Homo sapiens: one gene and its partners. The protein of the gene in region 1 purifies or fractionates together with the protein of each later gene. This does not show direct contact. Each region holds a gene or a part of one and is shown in the gene's direction. Other genes may lie near its edges. The genes, in order: TMEM230, ATP8A1 and ATP11B.

Evidence for each region.
Region 2: the proteins of TMEM230 (region 1) and ATP8A1 purify together in Homo sapiens (affinity purification with western blotting, with the first as the bait; one study listed by BioGRID). This does not show direct contact.
Region 3: the proteins of TMEM230 (region 1) and ATP11B purify together in Homo sapiens (affinity purification with western blotting; one study listed by BioGRID). This does not show direct contact.

The regions. Positions count from the first base shown.
Region 1 is NC_000020.11:5,099,457-5,103,211, reverse strand, and holds the end of TMEM230 (transmembrane protein 230), read left to right. Parts: intron 1-2,280; coding exon 2,281-2,421; 3' UTR 2,422-3,362; downstream 3,363-3,755.
Region 2 is NC_000004.12:42,412,503-42,416,157, reverse strand, and holds part of ATP8A1 (phospholipid-transporting ATPase IA), read left to right. Parts: intron 1-1,439; coding exon 1,440-1,531; intron 1,532-3,144; coding exon 3,145-3,242; 3' UTR 3,243-3,655. UniProt on the Homo sapiens protein: Catalytic component of a P4-ATPase flippase complex which catalyzes the hydrolysis of ATP coupled to the transport of aminophospholipids from the outer to the inner leaflet of various membranes and ensures the maintenance of asymmetric distribution of phospholipids.
Region 3 is NC_000003.12:182,796,473-182,800,127, forward strand, and holds part of ATP11B (phospholipid-transporting ATPase IF), read left to right. Parts: intron 1-3,655. UniProt on the Homo sapiens protein: Catalytic component of a P4-ATPase flippase complex which catalyzes the hydrolysis of ATP coupled to the transport of aminophospholipids, phosphatidylserines (PS) and phosphatidylethanolamines (PE), from the outer to the inner leaflet of intracellular membranes.

The DNA.
Region 1 (3,755 bases):
GGAATTACAGGCTTTAGCCACTGCACCCCTCTGACTATGTTTCCCGTTGTGTGTTAATTATGGTCAGTGTGAGGCCCACCCTAGCCTCCCAAAGTACTGGGATTACAGGCGTGAGCCACCACACCCGGTGGATGTAGAATTTTATCAAATGCTTTTCTAGCATCGATTGAAATAATCATATGGTTTTTGTCCTTCATTCTGCTGATACGATTTTATCACATTGATTGGTTTGTATAAGTTGAACCATCCTTGCCTCTCTGGGATAAATCCCACTTGGTCCTGATGAATGATCTTTTTAATGTATTGTTGAATTCAGTTTGCTAGTATTATCCTCCTTATTGAGGATTTTTGCATCAATGTTCATCAGGGATATTGGCCTATTTTTGTTTTTTCGATGTGTCTTTGCCTAGTTTTGGTATCAGGGTAAAACTGGCCTAGTAGAATCAGTTTGGAAGTATTCTCTCCATGTCTGTTCAGAATAGTTTCAGTAGGATTAGTATTCTTTTTTTTTTTTTTTTTTTTTGAGACAGGGTCTCATCTGTCATGCAGGTGTAGTGCAGTGGTGCGATCTCAGCTCACTGCAACCTTTGCCTCCCCGGCTTATGTGATCCTGCCACCTCAGCCTCACTAGCAACTGGGACCACAGGCATATACCACCATGCCCATCTAATTTTTGTATTTTTTGTCAAGACAGGATTTTACCATGTTGACCAGGCTGGTCTTGAAATCCTGAGCTCAAGCGATCTGCCTGCCTTGGCCTCCCAAAGTGCTGGGATTACAGGAGTGAACCACCATGCCCAGCCAAGTATTAATTCTTTAACTGGTATAATTCAGCAGCGAAACCATCTAGTCCCAGGCTTCTCTCTGCTAAGAGACTTTTTATTATGGCCTTAATCTCATTACTCTTTGTCTATTCAGGTTTTAGATTTTTTTCATTGTTCAATCTTTGTTTTTATATTCATGTCTGGTACAGCAGATTCCAGCAGAAAAACCAAAAAGATTTTCTTTTACATTTTGTTCTCTGTTGGCAAAACATGTTTTTCTTCCTTTGAGCAACAGTAAACTTCCATAGTTCCTATAGGGGAGGTGGTGGCAGGTAGGCAAACTTGGCCTCTGAGATATTAGACAGTTTGCCCTGTCATAGTTTGGAACAACATGGCTGAGCCTGGCATACAGGAGTCCTGATTGGTAAAGGGCTGTAGCTGGAGCAGCATGCTGTCATTGTAGCTGTGCAGTGCCATGGACATACTGTCAGTATTTGGAGAGAAATAGCAATTCTGTTATATGTGTGGGGTCACTGTGCCTCGTAAGTCAGTTCCTTCTTACAGTAGGTTTGGTTGGAGTTCCTGTTGAGCTTCAATATGAAACCTTAGAAACCTAAAGTAGTTGGTGGTTCTTTCTCATGGGCTGTCCCCACATACACAGTGTCCAAGTTGTCTTGAACCAATTCTGACTATAATTAACACACAACAGGGAACACAGCCAGCCAGGTGCAGTGGCTCAAGCCTATAATTCTAGCATTTTGGGAGGCTGAGGCAGGAGGATTGCTTGAGCCCCAGAGTTCGAGACCAGCCTGGGCAACATAGCGAGACCTCATCTCTACCAAACAAACAAATGTACAAAATGAGCCAGGTATGGTGACTGACACCTGTAACTCCAGCTACTTGGAGGCTGAGGTGGGAGGATCACTTGAGCCTGGGAAGTCGAGGTTGCAGTGAGCTGTAATCACACCACTGTACTCCAGCCCGAGCAACAGAGCAAGACTCTTACCTCAAAAAAAAAGAAAAAAGAGAAAGAAAAGAAAACCTGAAAGGCTGAGAAAAACACAGAGTTTATTGTAGTGGTATCTGTACAATTACAAAAGGTGAAAAACAACCAAAGTGTCCAGCAGCTGTATGTGGGGCAGTTAGGTAAAACTGTAGTATGTCCATTTCGGTGGAATGTTACACATCCTTACAGTTTAAATGTATGAAAAGGTTTTAATAATATTGGCCACAGGACACAGAGTATGGTGTGTTCACAACTAAGAGCTTTAAAAAAAGGAAAAGAAGCCAAAATATCTGGATGAGAATGGGTCATTTTTTTCTTTATAATTGTTAATATTTTGTAGTTTGTCTTCAATTTATAATCAGGAGGAAACCTTTTCCCTTGGTGGTATACAACTCAAAGAAAAAGTACTGAAGAGTATAAAATACTGATCTAAGGATTAGGTCTGTGACGTTTTATTTTAAAATGTGTAACTCTTACGGTACTAATGTGTTTGCCTCCTTCTGCCACCAGGGGGCAGACCGGGCCGTTCCAGTGCTGATCATTGGCATTCTGGTGTTCCTACCCGGATTTTACCACCTGCGCATCGCTTACTATGCATCCAAAGGCTACCGTGGTTACTCCTATGATGACATTCCAGACTTTGATGACTAGCACCCACCCCATAGCTGAGGAGGAGTCACAGTGGAACTGTCCCAGCTTTAAGATATCTAGCAGAAACTATAGCTGAGGACTAAGGAATTCTGCAGCTTGCAGATGTTTAAGAAAATAATGGCCAGATTTTTTGGGTCCTTCCCAAAGATGTTAAGTGAACCTACAGTTAGCTAATTAGGACAAGCTCTATTTTTCATCCCTGGGCCCTGACAAGTTTTTCCACAGGAATATGTATCATGGAAGAATAGAGGTTATTCTGTAATGGAAAAGTGTTGCCTGCCACCACCCTCTGTAGAGCTGAGCATTTCTTTTAAATAGTCTTCATTGCCAATTTGTTCTTGTAGCAAATGGAACAATGTGGTATGGCTAATTTCTTATTATTAAGTAATTTATTTTAAAAATATCTGAGTATATTATCCTGTACACTTATCCCTACCTTCATGTTCCAGTGGAAGACCTTAGTAAAATCAAAGATCAGTGAGTTCATCTGTAATATTTTTTTTACTTGCTTTCTTACTGACAGCAACCAGGAATTTTTTTATCCTGCAGAGCAAGTTTTCAAAATGTAAATACTTCCTCTGTTTAACAGTCCTTGGACCATTCTGATCCAGTTCACCAGTAGGTTGGACAGCATATAATTTGCATCATTTTGTCCCTTGTAAATCAAGATGTTCTGCAGATTATTCCTTTAACGGCCGGACTTTTGGCTGTTTCCTAATGAAACATGTAGTGGTTATTATTTAGAGTTTATAGCCGTATTGCTAGCACCTTGTAGTATGTCATCATTCTGCTCATGATTCCAAGGATCAGCCTGGATGCCTAGAGGACTAGATCACCTTAGTTTGATTCTATTTTTTAGCTTGCAAAAAGTGACTTATATTCCAAAGAAATTAAAATGTTGAAATCCAAATCCTAGAAATAAAATGAGTTAACTTCAAACATTTCAGAAAACATTTTAATGATTTTATGATATCTTTAATCCCAGTACCTAGATCTACCTTAGTTTCTAGGTAGCTGGCATTGTGGGTCACACTCAACTTTCCCTAACTCTGAGGTTATGGACTTGGGCAACTGGAAGCCTGGACATGCCATCAGCTGAGTTGCAAGGCTGTGGGAAGAGCAAGTTTTAGATGTCTACTCAATATCCAAGTGGAGCTGTTGAGGAGGCAGTTGCGATGCATGTGTGTGTCTAGAGTTTAAGAGTGGGTCTTGGATGGAAATAGAAATTTGGGAGTCAGCATTTGGACAGTATCTTAAAAGCTAGAGGGCTGTTTGAGATCACCAGTAGAGTGAGTATAGTTGGAGGAAAAAAAAAAAACTCAGGAAGTGAGGGA
Region 2 (3,655 bases), on another chromosome or scaffold:
ATGCTAGATCATTTAAAGAGTAGAGTAAGAAAGCAACTCTGTAAAAATGGCCCTTTCTCATTTCTCATATCTGTTTATTTCACTGACAGAAACAAGTTTTACAACTATTTGCAGAACTGCTGGAGTTTTAGATTAATTAGTTTTCTTGCCTTCATGTAGCTAATTTCCAATGACAATAAAATATGTCCAATAATACCAGTTAACCTCCCTAGACTTTAAAATATATATGTGGAAGATTACTACAAATGTTAACATTTCTAAATATTTTTTCTTCGGTTTTTGCCTAAATGTTTGCATAATTCATTTACACAATGAGTTCATTTTGCAGAGGATCCTTTTTTTGTATATGATATTGTTTCATTTCAGGGTCTTAGAAAAATTGGCAAAATACAGAACTAACATAACACAGCAATTTAACTAAAGCTTTTATAGTGGGAAAAACACAAGATGGAAATTTTTCAGCTGAATCAGTTCCAGTTATTAAAATTGCATAAACATTTGCTGCAACACATATGGATTACTTATTTGTTTCTCATGCCTATTATGTTCTTTAATATCAAAACAATTTTATAAAACAATGAAGAAATGGCATGATTTGGAAGATGGATGATGTCTATAAGTACATTTCAGAATTATTACTCAACTTCACGTATTCAACAAATATTTGAGTTTCTACTGTGTGAGACACTTTTATGGGAAGTTGGGGGAGAAGATGCCTTATTTTTTACAATGTGCTTTTAGAAGTTACATAATTATCTGGATTTGTATCTGAGGAGACAACTATTCTAAACACTTCCTGAAAAATACTTTCCTTGTTATTTCACCTACCATAATTATTTTTCTGAAAATAGTTTATTTTAAAATAAAATTAAGGAACACATGTCATACCATATTAGTGGTAGTGAACTTCTAGTTAAAAAGTCTATGAAATGTCTTCTTTGTGTAATGTTAGTTAATATTTACTTTAATATTTTTAACTAAAAAATAGTTTATACCAAAACGTGCCAAATGTGAAAAAAATAGTAATAACTAATTTTTTATTCTAAAAATTGCCATGCTTAGAATATATGTAGTCAGTTTTTAAAAGTGAATAACACTACTGTTGTTTTGTATTTTTTTATTTTAATTGTGTTATACTGGCTCTGTGTTGCCATTTGACTTAAATATAACTGAGTGGGGGGTGGTGAGGAGATCCTACTTTTTACTGGGAGAAGGATTATTGGGGACCAAACTCCTTAGGGAGAAAATGGCCTCAAAAGTCTGTCTAAATACTTGAAATTTCATTCGCTATCTGAGAAAATGTGTAAAAAGAATCACTAGGCTACGGATTTCTCGAGCAATCTTTTGTTTAAGTCTAACTCTCTTTGGTGGTCCTGTGGGCACACTGGGGTCTCTGCCGAGTTGATAATTCATTTCACACATTTGCACCTGCTCTGCAGCCTGACCGAGAGGGCGCAACTGCTCAAGAACGTCTTTAAGAAGAACCACGTGAACTTGTACCGCTCTGAATCCTTGCAACAAAATCTGCTCCGTGAGTATTTGAGTTTCTTATTTTTAAATAAATTCTCTGCCATTGCTGTATCATAGCATTTATACAGTATCCTGACTTTAGGGATATTTATTTAAAACTAATGTCTAAAATAAGTTTTGCATATTTGTAACCTGTAAATAACAGAAAATCCATTGGTCAGAACCATTTCACTTTCAACAGAAGAGATAGTTAATTTTAAAATCTTGCTGTTTCACTTAAAGAAAAACAGTATTTCCACATTCCTTGCTTCCTCAAATCTTTTTCTTTAAAGCCAGTAAATCTTAATTCTTAAAAGCTGCCCCTGTCTTGTTATCTTTTCTACTTGAATAACTTTGCAAGAGCCTTTCAGCTTTCATACAACACAAGGAAGCATATATTTTCCCCTTCAGAAATATTTATGAATATTTAGAGTTGTAAGACATTATTAGATATTGTGCCCTCTTAACATTTCAAGATCTAAAAAAGAATATAAAATGTAAAGCCCTGTAGTAAATGTATTTGTGTGAGTAATATATCTTTTGTTTCATGTTGTTTCCACTTATAATTTATTTTCACTTACGTATACTCATGTCTAATGCTTTTGCTCTTTATACTTCAAGAGGCCTTTTCTAAAGATGTGATCCCCTTGGGGGCCATTCCTTATGCCCATGCCATGTCGGGGCGTGAGTGAGTTTATTTGTGATGCTGAGAGCCAAGGGGAATGTCCTCTGAAGGAAGGAGACCACTTGCCACCATGAGCAGCTATTTGTGTTTATCTCCTCCTCCTCGCCTTTTTAAATTGACAAACAATAATTGTCTATATTTATGGAGTACAAGGTGATGTTTTGATGTACAGTTGGCCCTTTCTATCAGTGGGTTCCACATCTGTGGATTCAGCCCGCTGTGAGTCAAGTATATTCAAGGGGGAAAAAAAAATTCACAAAATTCCTAAAAGCAAAACTTGAACTTGCCATGGACGAAATACTACATTGAATCCACTAGAATGAACTGATGTGAGGGCATTGTATTAAGTATTATAAGTAATCTAGAAATGATTTTAAGTCTACGAGAGAATGTGTGTAGGTTATATGCAAATACTGTGCCATTTTATATAAAGGATTTAAGCATCCGTGGATTTTGATATTTAAGGGGGTCCCTGAAGCCATTCCCACAGATACCAAGGGACCGTACATGGTGGGATGGTTGAATCAATTACATTATTCACCACCTCACCTACATATCACTTTTCCTTTCCTCTCATCCACCTGACCTATGTGGAAATATGTGAGCCCACTTGACTCAACTCCCTCACCCCCTCCAGAATTGGGGAAGCAAAAATTAGAAGAGTTGGAGTTGACTTACGGGACAGAGGATTTAGGGGAATTGAGGGTGCCTACTCAGTCTTCTAGAGAGAAGAATACCTAGAATCTAAACTGGCAACCTAAGATCATCCCACTCTTTATTTTGAAGTTAAGTCTGTATCTTTTCTAGGCATTAAAAATCAGTGTCTCCATGCTTTTGAATGTGGGAAGGCTGCATTTGTTCCCCAGGCTAGAAAATGAATACCCAAAAGTCAGAATAACGGTGGTTTCCAGTGCCTTTGTGAGAATTTCTGTTTTATCATTAACCTACAGATGGGTATGCGTTCTCTCAAGATGAAAATGGAATCGTTTCACAGTCTGAAGTGATAAGAGCATATGATACCACGAAACAGAGGCCCGACGAATGGTGATGGGGAGAGCCTGAAAGGCAGGCTCTGTTACCTCTCTAAGGAGAGCTACCAGGTTGTCACCGCAGTCTGCTAACCAATTCCAGTCTGGTCCATGAAGAGGAAAGGTAGATCTGAGCTCATCTCGCTGATGGACATTCAGATTCATGTATATTATAGACATAAGCACTGTGCAACTGTACTGTAACACCATCTCTTTTGGATTTTTTTAAGGTATTTGCTAAGTCTTTGTAAACGGAAATTGAAAATGACCTGGTATCTTGCCAGAGGGCTTTCTTAAACGGAGAATAAGTCAGTATTCTTATGCCATTACTGTGGGGCTGTAACTGACTGTCAGTTTATTGGCTGTACCACAAGGTAACCAACCATTAAAAAACTCTAAATGATATTTAGTTAAAGGGACTCTTGGTATCCAG
Region 3 (3,655 bases), on another chromosome or scaffold:
TATTAAAATTAAAATTTGAATTCATGTGTCTATTGGCTGCCATTGGCTGCCATATTGGACAGTTCATATTTTCATTATCACAGAAAATTCTATTGGACAGCACCAATTTAGACTTTTAAATGAAAGTCTGTGTCAGTACATATTTGAATGTAATACTACATTTTTAAAGCACTTGCTGTGTGCTGGTATTAACAGATGCTGAATACCAGGGATACAAATGTTGGTCAGGGTCACACATACTCTACATAAGTAGACATTGGATACATGTTGCTGAACAAATAATTAATAGATGAGGAAAGAAAGAATGAATCTGTAGTGTTGTTTCTGTGTTTAGAGACAAAAATGACCAAATTTAAGATTGACTAGCCCAGAAAAAAGTTAGAAAATGAGTAATTACACAAAAACAGTATTACTAGGATAACTGTTTCTTAAACTGTTCCATAAATGTAATCCCTTTAGATTGTATTGGCGATGGTGGTAGGAGGCTGCTAAGATTGTCTTCTGATTAACTGAGAAAAATGAGAAGGTCTTAATCTGAACTCCCTCAACTTTCTGTTCTTCCTCACACTCACCGAACTTGCTTATATTTTATACTGGTACTTAATTCTTCCCTTCACAGTCACAAGGAAGATGCAACCCTCTTTTCCAAGATAACAATTCCACTTAAGCTTTTGATCCTTTTCTTTCATTCTGCTGTCCATACTCCATCAGTTATCATTAGTATGTTTCTTTTCTTTCTCTTTACTTTTTCTCTTAACTTGTGAACATGTTCAAGCCTCTCTGCTACTTTTTCCTGTACCTGTAACTGGCAAATTCTTTTTAATTTTCTGAAAAACAGATCTATAAAACTGTGCTGGCTGATGTATTTGGAATGTGGCTAGTTTGAGTAGAGTTATTCTTACGTATAAAATACACATTGGATTTCAAAAACAGTATTAAAAAATGTAAAACCTGGCCGGGCAAGGTGGCTCATTCCTGTAATCCCAGTACTTTGGGAGGCCGAGACAGGCAGATCACCTGAGGTCAGGAGTTCGAGACCAGCCTGGCCAACATGGTGAAACCTCATCTCTACTAAAAATCCGAAAATTTGCCTGGCGTGGTGATGGGCACCTGTAATCCCAGCTACTCAGGAGGCTGAAGCAGCAGAATCACTTGAACGTGGGAGGCAAAGGTTGCAGTAAGCCAAGATCATGCCACTGGACTCTAGCCTGGGTGACAGAGGGAGACTCTGTCTCAAAAAAGAAAAAAGAAAAAAGAAAAAAGAACTCTCATTTTTTTGTTAGTTACATGTTGAGATATTATAATATTTTACATATATAGGTAAAGTAAAATAAATTTTTGGAATTTTGTTTCTTTTTACTTTTTTTAAAGTGGTTAGAAATTTTAAAGTTACCTACGTGACTTGCATCTGTTGCTCATGTTCTATTTCTATTAGTGCTGCTGTATAACATTAAAAGTGAATTCCTGTATCCTGGTAAGAATAGTGAGATCCTGTCTCTAGGAAAGAAAAAAAAATTAGCTGGGCATTGTGGTACTGACTTGTAGTCTCAGCTGCTTGGAAGGTTAGGGTGGGAAGGTCACTTGACCCAAGTAGTTTGAGGCTGCAGTGAGCCATGATCATGCCACCACACTCTAGCCTGGGTGACAGAGTGAGACCGTCTGAAAAGAATAGTGAGCTCCTGTTTTTACAGAACACATTGTGGAAGTCTAGATATCTCACTTACTAGACTAGACTGTAAATATCTTAGGATAAGAACCATATCTTACTTGTATTTATATTCCTTACACTCAAGACAGCAGTTGGCCCATTGTAGGTATTCACCTGCCAAATGTTGGTTGAATAAATGAATGAGTATCAGATCTAATTCAGCATCAGTTTGAAAATACCTGCATTCTCTGCCTCTTTTCCAAGGAATGAATGAAGGAATAGAAAAAGGAAGCACTGGCCTAGGGTGGTATTTTTTTTGTGGATAAGTTTTAACCTCAAGAATTAATGTTTAAGAACCTAGATCTGTGAGTATGTGCTGCTTTATCTCTATTTTCAGACATATATTCTTAGATACGCAGTTTTGCATTTGGTTAGGAAGAGGATAAAGCATTAGAGGAAACTCAGGTATTCCCAGCAACACTGAAGTAGGGACCTTGCTCCAGATCCTCTAAAGAGCCTTATGATTACCATTATTGTCATTAAATGTTTTCTAGACCTGTGCTATTCAACATGGTATCCACATATGGCTGTCGAAATGTAGGCACTTGAAGTGTGTCTACTCTGAATTGAGATGTGTGTGAATGAAATATGCAGTGGATCTTGAAGACTTAGTTTGGAAAAAGGATGTAAAATATCTCATTCATTTTCTAATTGATTACATGTTGAAATTATATTGGGTTATATAAATATACATGTATTTGGTTAAATATTAAATGCTACTTGTTTATTTTTACCTTTTTTTAAATGTGGAAACTAAGAAAATTAACATATGTGGCTTAGGCCATATTTCTGTTCTACAGCATTGTTTTAGATTATGGTAACAATATATAATGCCTGGCATAGGCAGATTCAAGAAAGTTTTTGATTCTAAGGACTTTATGACTTTACCCAGGCTTTTTTTCTGTGAGTTTTCTATTTTCAGAGTGTTGGTCTGCATTATATCTAAGAGACTAGAAGCTGCCTGATAGACTAACTGCATCTGGTCCCTTGGAAATAATTTATCAAGTCAACATCGACTGCTGTGGGGTTCTAGATTTAGCCATGCTGTTTATTCTTCATTTTGTTTCTGCAGTTGTCTGAGTGCTGATCTTTCTTTCTTTCTTTTTTTTTTTTTTTTGGAGACAGTTTCGCTCTTTCGCCCAGGCGGAGTGCAGTTGCGCGATCTCAGCTCACTGCAAGTTCGCCTCCTGGGTTCCCACCATTCTCCTGCCTCAGCCTCCGGAGTAGCTGGGACTACAGGCGCCCACCACCACGCCCAGCTAATTTTTTGTATTTTTAGTAGAGATGGGGTTTCTCCGTGTTACCAGGATGGTCTCGATCTCCTGACCTCATGATCCGCCCGCCTCGGCCTCCGGAAGTGCTGGGATTACAGGCGTCAGCCACCATGCCCGGCCCGAGTGCTGATCATTCTAAGCAAGATAATATTCATAATTAGCTTAGTTTTTACTAGAAATGTGCATTTTTATTGTTTAATTTTAATTTTTTTATTCTCAAAAGGAAGTAAACGTGTATTTTTTAAAAAATATCAAAATGAAACTCAAGATTTGAGTTTATAAACATAGTTGAAAGATTTTATTCTCAGATATTCTTTATTTTGCTTTTTTTCCTGGAGTTTCTCTGTTATAAAATTTAGTATAAGAAAAACATTCTAGGCCAGGTGTGGTGGCTCAAACCTGTAACCTCGGCACTTTGGGAGACACACAGGAGGATTGCTTTGGGCCAGGAGTTTAAGGCCAGATTGGGCAACATAGTGAGACCCTGTGTCTACAAAAATTAAAAATTAGCTGGGCATGGCGGTGCCTGCCTTTAGTCCCAGCTACTTGGGAGACTGAGGCAGGAGTATTGCTTGAACACAGGAGTTCAAGGCGGCAGTGAGCTATGATTGTGCCAGTACATTCCAGCCTGGATGACAGAGTAAGACCCTGTCTCTAAAAAATAAAAATTAAA